Linked DNA regions of Homo sapiens. The protein of the gene in region 2 interacts with the protein of the main gene of each other region in a pairwise test. Each region holds a gene or a part of one and is shown on either strand. Other genes may lie near its edges.

The links. The genes of interacting proteins can lie anywhere in the genome.
Region 1: the proteins of PLEKHA5 (region 2) and KANSL1 interact in a two-hybrid assay, tested with the Homo sapiens proteins (one large-scale study listed by BioGRID and IntAct).

The regions. Positions count from the first base shown.
Region 1 is NC_000017.11:46,032,930-46,036,759, forward strand, and holds part of KANSL1 (KAT8 regulatory NSL complex subunit 1), read right to left. Parts: intron 1,357-3,830; coding exon 1,232-1,356; intron 532-1,231; coding exon 474-531; intron 264-473; coding exon 151-263; intron 1-150. UniProt on the Homo sapiens protein: Non-catalytic component of the NSL histone acetyltransferase complex, a multiprotein complex that mediates histone H4 acetylation at 'Lys-5'- and 'Lys-8' (H4K5ac and H4K8ac) at transcription start sites and promotes transcription initiation.
Region 2 is NC_000012.12:19,356,485-19,360,644, reverse strand, and holds part of PLEKHA5 (pleckstrin homology domain-containing family A member 5), read right to left. Parts: intron 2,418-4,160; coding exon 2,208-2,417; intron 1,234-2,207; coding exon 1,099-1,233; intron 1-1,098.

The DNA.
Region 1 (3,830 bases), on a different chromosome or scaffold from region 2:
CCAAGGAAATTCTGAGCTATTTGCCACTGCCAGTAGATGAGTATGATGAGCAACCAAGAGGCAGTAGCAATTCCATGGACTCAAGTAGGGCCCAAACTCCCTGTCCACCCTCTCTCCACAGGCCCTGGGGACCCAAGCCTGCCCCATCACCTGCTGCCCCGCCGCTGGGGTGGCACACTCGTGGTCCACAGCCACCGTGCCCTCTCCATCTCCTCACATTTGGCATGCAGGGCGGCGAAGGCTGCGTCGGATAGGTCCTCAATCTGCAATAGAGCAGCTTCATCGATCCCCTCTTTTCTCCAGGAGTTAAGAACCAGTCCCACCCCATTCTAGGTTCTTCCCGGTCACGACAGGAATACAAGGAGCTTGCACTTCACACCCACAAGTCTTCAGGCCATTTAGGGTGTGTGCACTCATATGTATGTGTGCATGTGTACACACGTGTTCTTCTAACAGAAGAACCAGGCCATTACCTCTTCATTCTCCTCATCAGGACTCCCCTTCAGAGACTGAAGATCAACCTCCCGCCAGCTGCAAAACCAAGAACAGACAATCATGAGATGGCAAGCAGGCTAAAACTGGGGGCAGGGTCAAAGTGTCCATGCAAGGATGAGAATCCTGCACCTGTGGGTGACACTGCTCTCTGCCGGGTAGGCTCTGCCCTATCACAGCTCAGTCTCCCTACCCTGTCAAGGCCTGTGAAATTGGCCACCTACTCAAATGCCCAAGAAGGCCAGAAATGAGAGAAGCGGCCTAGGGTAAGGCTGAGGCTGAGAGACTGTGACAAACACAAGAAAAGAAACCTGTTTAAAGAGGACCACCACTGTTCAGGACCAGCTGATTGCTCCCATATGGAAATGCATACCCAGGGTTGCCTAATCTTCTGTTTGGCAACAAAAGCTGGAAACAAAGATTTTTATGTGAAATCCTGCTTTGATGTTGACAACAAATTCAGTATTTTAAAACATACTGTATGTGTTGACAAAACCGGTCTCTAGACCAGTAAGTGAATGGCCTACCAGGCTGTGACTGCTGGTTCGTTTGGTGTATTCCTATAATGGAATGAGAGAGAACTATATACAGAAATAATTTCGTTCTTATCAGATAAGAATTTCTCTTAATGAGAAGACAGAACCAAAGACTAGGGCCCAACTCTTGGTCAGAAGAGAAGAGGGAAAAAGGGCAATAGCAGGAAGAATGGGGAGAGGAGCCAACTATTCTGAGCTTCTACCTGGGCGTAAGGATTTCCTTGTATTGCAGTTTCTCTACGCGAGTTGTTGCAGCAACAGACATTGGGATGACAATGTTGTTAATATCAAATGAGCTCTCTCCCCTTCTCCTCCTTACTGGCTGCTGCTGTAAGATAAAAATTAAGTTTAAAAGGAAGGTACAATTTTACAGACATCAAATCATTCATCTAAGAGTTAAAGCAGGATCACCAATAACCAAGCATCTGGGTCCTTGGGTTGAAGCTGAGTAATGACCATAGCAGCTGCTCCCACCTAGGAGTCAGTCTCCAACAGCAAAAAACCTCACGGAGAAATACCAGGTGGTCATGAGGAGTTAGTCCCATTCATAAGTCCCACTGGTCACCCTCTTCCTTCAAGGGCTCATGCGTAAATTTCATAGGGGTGGGTACCTGGGATCTTAACTGTTGGGGTTCCTACTCTATATACACCTCTATTAACCTCCTCTCCTTTTACAATCTTTATTTCCTTCCTTTATCCCCGTTTATGACTTAAGACTCATAGTGGCCCCTCCCCTAAAAGCAATGCTTGAAAGCTTATGCTGAAAGAGGCCCAAAGGATAGGCCCATCTCAATACATCATCTAACCTTGGTTGTCATGAATGCACCTCCTTCTCAAAGATCTGAACTCTTCAGCTAAATCTGCACCCACCATCTGCCCAGTCTTTATGTGATTTCCCCTCTTTTGATGATTCTTGGGGAAAGAGCTGAGAGCTTTCTAGCTGTATCAAAGGAGATGAATGGAGGGAAACTAAAGAGGAGAACCTGACTATACCTCACATTCCTGGTGAAAGGAAATTTGCTTCTATAGGAAATAGTTGAGAAGACCAAACTCTTGGAAAAATAAGACTTCCAAGGATCGAATATCAGAGGCAGAGGTAAGCATCTACAGTAGCTGGGAGACTAGGGAACTAAATGGCTTAGTCTCTTGGATGGAGGAAGAAGTCTACTAGCTGCTGCTGCCCAGATAGTTAATACCCTATCCTGAAACAGAGACTAGCAACTGAGCTGTGAGAGGCCAGAAGGAAACAGTGGCATAACAAACACGCTGCCATGGCAACAAAACAGCTGGAAAACACCTAAGAGGCTGCATTTATACCTAAACCACCAAGTGTGGTCAGTCCACAGGGAAGGGGTTGGAGGAGTAAGAAGTCCCCTATAACTAACCCCTCTATCCTCTGTTCCTGGACGGTGAGATACCCTTTATTCATCCTATCATCTTAGGACATTCTCAGAGAATGTTAAAAGTCAGCACTTCCTGGGCCAGAGTTTCAGTCACTGTCATTTATAACTTCAGATGACCACAATGCCCTTTTCACTTCAATTTCTTTCTCTATCAAATCAGATGACTGCCATTGACCTCAGAAATTTAGGATATCTGGTTAACCAAAATGGTTAAACAGACTTTTGGGGATCTTGCCTGAGTTCTGTAGCTGAGGATTAGTGATCTCATACCCAGAGACCTCTGCCACTGCCAGATCTGTGCTGAAATTATACATCCCACTACAAGAAATGCATCTTAAGAAAGCCTCAAGAGAGACAGCCTTCCCAGTATCTTGGTCAAGAATAAATGTGAAACTGCTGGCAGAAACAGGTATACACTTTCCCTGAAACTTCTTGGGCTTGTTGTTAGTACCTTCGAGAAAAAGATACTGGAGCAGGTTGTGGGATGGTTCAACGGGCTCTTATCTCATCCTCTGCCTAGACACACCCCCTATTATGTTAGCTACTCATTAGGTCTAAATTAACTACTATCTCCTATTTAGAGCCAGAGATAGAGAGCAGGTGATGAGAATAAAACTGGTTCCCAAACTTGGTTGTATATCAGAAGCAACATTAAGGAGTATTTTTTAAAAAAAAAAAAAAGGTTCTAGGACTCCCCCCCGCTCTTTTATAAAATCAGAATTTTGTTTGTTTGTTTGTTTAAGAGATGAGGTCTCACTATGTTGTCCAGGCTGGACTCAATCTCCTGGGCTGAAGAGATCTTCCTGAGTAGCTGGAGCTACAGGCATGCAATATCACAGCCAGCAACAAATCAGATCTTTAGAAGTGTCTGGTTGGTTGGTTTTGTTTTTTAAAGCTGCTGAGGTGATTCTGATGCAGCTACTGGCTTTTGGGAAGCACTGACAAAAACACTCGCTCTCCTCCCTACCTTTCTCCAGTGTCCTCTGGCTTCTTTACTTGATTTCAAGGAGAGCTGGCCCTTTGTATCCATGGGTTCAACCAATTGTGGATTGAAAATATTTGGGGGAAAAAAATTGTGTCTGTACTGAAAAGGTACAGATTTTTCTTTTCATTATTCTCTAAACAATACAGCATACTATTTTTATAGCATTTACATTGCATTAGGTATTATCAGTAATCTGGAGATGATTTAAAGTATATGGGATTTAAAGCATACACATAGGTTATATGCAAATACTATGCCATTTTATATTAGGGACATGAGCAACAATAGCTTTTGCTATCTATGGGAGGTCCTGGAACCAATCCCCACTGCAGATACTGCAGATACTGAGAGCCTGCTGTTATCTGGCCTATCTTCTTTCTTTTTTTTTTTTTGAGACGAAGTCTTGCTGCGACG
Region 2 (4,160 bases):
TTAATTTTTCTTTTTTTCTTTTTCTTTTTTCTTTTTTTTGAGACGGAATCTCACTCTGTCCTCCAGGCTGCAGGGTAGTGTGGCGCGATCTCAGCTCATTGCAACCTCTGACTCCCGGGTTCAAGCGATTCTCCTGCTTCAGCCTCCCAAGTAGTGATTACAGGCATGTGTCACTGTGCCTGGCTAACTCTTGTATTTTTTAGTAGATATGGGGTTTCACTATGTTTGCGAGGCTGATCTCGAACTCCGGGCCTCAAGTGATCCACTCGCCTTGGCCTCCAAAGTGCTGGGATTACAGGCATGAGCCACTGTGCCCGCCACGTTTTTTTTGTTTTTTTTTTTGAAACAGGATCTCACTCTGTGGCCCATCTCTACTCACTGCGACTTGGGCTCAGGTGATCCTCCCACCTCAGCTTCCCCAGTAGCAGTTGGGACTACAGGTGCATGCCACCACACCTGGCTAATTTTTGTATTCAGTATTGGCAGGGTTTCACCATGTTGCCCAGGCTGGTCTCAAACTTCTGGGCTCAAGTGATCCGCCTGCCTCAGCTTCTCAAAGTGCTGGGATTACACACACCAGCCACCGTGCCCAGTCAATTAATGCATATCTTGATGTGGCTGAATACATCAATCAAACTAAAGAAAGCTTAATTTTTCCTTTTTCTTTTTTTTTTTGAGATGGAGTCTCCCTCCCTCTGTCGCCCAGGCTGGAGTGTAGTGGCGCGATCTCGGCTCACTGCAAGCTCCGCCTCCCAGATTCACGCCATTCTCCTGCCTCAGCCTCCCCAGTAGCTGGGACTACAGGAGCCTGCCACCAAGCCCGGCTAATTTTTTTTTGCATTTTTAGTAGAGACGGGGTTTTACCGTGTTAGCCAGGATGGTCTCGATCTCCTGACCTCGTGATTCGCCTGCCTCAGCCTCCCAAAGTGCTGGGATTACAGACGTGAGCCACCGCGCCCGGCCAGAAAGCTTATTTTTTCATTTAGCTCTATGGACTCTGTGACTGAAAGAAACACACTTTATTTTCAACCTTACCACTTGATTTAATCTTCACAAATCTATTCCTTTGGAATACCTTTCATAAAATAATCTCGCTACCTCTTTGCTGAAGTCCACATTTTGGGGTTCGGTTTCTTTTAGTTGAACAATTTCTGTTGCAGGAGTTTCATGGTCTGGCTTTACATCATTTTCTCTAATGGCAGTGTCCAGTTCCTTATCATCCCTCCTTCGAGTCTGCTCAAAAGACATATAGCATTTTTATACTCATACTGTGCATGCATGTATATTTTATAAATAGTGCCTGTTAATTCTCAAAATAGAACAAAGCTGGATCTCCACTCATGAAGAAGTTTTCCTATGAAAACTAACAAAGAAAATTTATATATATAGCACTATTCCACACATTTTTCTCAACTCTTTTAAAAAAAACCATTCATTTTGTAATTTGCAGAATGTGCCACAATTCAAACTGTTGCTTTGTTTAGTCTCCATTAGCAATGCCTGCACTTGATTCGGTGGAAAGAGGGGATATTCATTAGGACAGGAAAGCATGTTCAGCTGATGCATTCAGTTTATGCCATTATAGACAAACTTTTAAGATACTATTGCTAGGTGACAAGTGTCTACAAACAGGGAAAGACCAGACAGAAGCTACTGAACAGGTTGGCTAGGCTGCTGTCTCTGAATTTATAAAGAGGGGCAAAAAACAAAAAGAAACAAAATGGCATCACTTTATAAGCCTGAAGTTGAGAGGTGATGGACAGCACACTTGGAACTTTATTTAGAAGCTCTCTCCTGCTACAATTTAGGTCATGTTAAATCAGGACACAGAGCAATACATATTTTATTGAGAGGGGAATTGGGGACTATCTTGGTAACCTGCATAGCATTTTACATTTGTTGAAAACCCTTTTATTTTCTTAGTGTCTCTAAGGAGTCTGGGCAGCTGTATCATCACTGTAAAGTTGAAGACATTAAGTCCACAACTAGTCCACGGGCATCCAACATGTAGTTTAGCTCTGGTCTCTTGAACTCAGGGTTATTTACATTTTACTTAGCTGTCTTAGCTTATTATTAGGAGAATTAAATAATATAAAATAAGTATCCATACTGCAGACCTTTTAAGACCTATCAATCATGTAACTCTGATTCCAAAATTCAGTGATACTAGATTTACACAAAATAATAATCAAATGCAATTCATATACCTGAGTAGTCCTAAATGGATTATCCCTTAAATTTGAAGGGCTTTGTAAGGGTGACTGGTCTGAAGCACCGATAACATTTAACCCTTTTTTCTTCTCCCTCAGGCACGCTTGTTGATGTCTTCTTATTCTTTCCATTTGCTCTTCCACAGTCATCCTTGGTCGAGTACTTTCAGCCAAACAGAGCTGTTCCACTGCACTTCTTGGTCTTTCCTTCAATGTAAAAATGAACATATCAATACATAAATGAAAACTTCTGAAAAGTATGATGGAATAAAAAATGTTGTAAAGTGCATTTATTTATTTTGTTTTCAAAATCACAAGAAGAGGTTTTGAATGTCATTTAGATATCACCAGAAAGGCACATGAAATTGCTATTTGATCCTTAACTAGTAATTGGTGATGTATGCTCAATAACAGAAAGAAAAAGAGACGATATTATAAGGGAGGAGAGAGAAAAGAGGAATAGAAAATATTTTTTTGGCTTAAAAAAAAAATATGGACCAGGAGTGGTGGCTCACACCTATAATCCCAGCACTTTGGGACCCTGAGGTGGGTGGATTACTTGAGCCCAGGAGTTTGAGACCAGCCTGGGCAACATGGTAAAAACCCGTCTCTACCAAAAATACAAAAATTAGCCAGGCAGGTGTGGTGGTATATGCCTATAGTCCCAGCTACTTGGGAGGCTGAGGTAGGAGGATGGTTTGAGCCCAGGAGGTGGAGGTTGCAGCGAGCTGAGATCGTGCTACTGCACTCCAGCATGCAGATGACATGACAGAGCCAGATGCCATCTCAAACAAACAAACAAACAAACAAACAAACCCCCATAACTCAGTTCCAGTAAATCTGGGTAAAACAAAAAACACCATCACCACCACCATAAAAGGGCAGGGCAGGCTGGGTGCAGTGGCTCACGCCTATAATCCCAGTACTTTGGGAGGCTGAGGCAGGTGGATCACTTGAGATCAGGAGTTCAAGACCAGCCTGGCCAACATGGCGAAACCCTGTCTCTATAAAAGTACAAAAAATTTAGCCAGGCATGGTGGCTCATGCCAGTAGTCCCAGCTACTCGGGAGGCTGAGGTGGGAGAATTGCTTGAACCCAGGAGGCAGAGGTTGTAGTGAACTGAGATTGTGCCAACCTGGGCAATGAGTGAGAGTCTGTCTCAAAAAAAAAAAAAAAAAAAGAATATAAAGAATATGGCAGCTCTGGAGCAAGCCAGTCCCATGACCCTGAAATAGAAAATTGCATAAAACTTGACCCTGAAAGAGAAAACTGAATAAAACTCAAATGAGGAGAAAAGCAGGGGCACAGTGTCTAAATATTAGAGATTTCTTTTATTTTGATGAAAACGTAATGTTTTAAGTTATACATTTACCGTGAAAAGACTAATAAAACAAACACCTCTATTTTCTTTCTCATCAGTAATAAAACTACGAAAACACTTATTTTCTATAAATCAGTCATATTTGAAAATGCTTAGGCCGGGCGCGGTGGCTCACACCTGTAATCCCAACACTTTGGAAGGCCGAGGCAGGCAGATCACGAGGTCAGGAGTTAGAGACCAGCCTGGCCAACATGGTGAAACCCTGTGTCTACTAAAAATACAGAAATTAGCTGGGCATGATGGCGGGCGCCTGTAGGCCCAGCTACTCGGGAGGCCGAGGCAGGAGAATCATTTGAACCCGGGAGGCAGAGGTTGCAATGAGCTGAGATCACGCCATTGCACCTGGGCGACAGGGAGAGACTCTGTCTCAAAAAAAAAAAAAAAAAAAAAAGAAAAACAACTTCCTCTTCTTCCACCCAGTCAATGTGAAGATGATGAGGATGAAGATCTTTATGATGAACTATTTCCACTTAATAAGTGGTAAAATATATTTTCCCTTATAATTTTAATTAATTTTATTTATTTATGTATTTATTTTTTGAGACAGGCTGTCACTCTGCTGCCTAGGC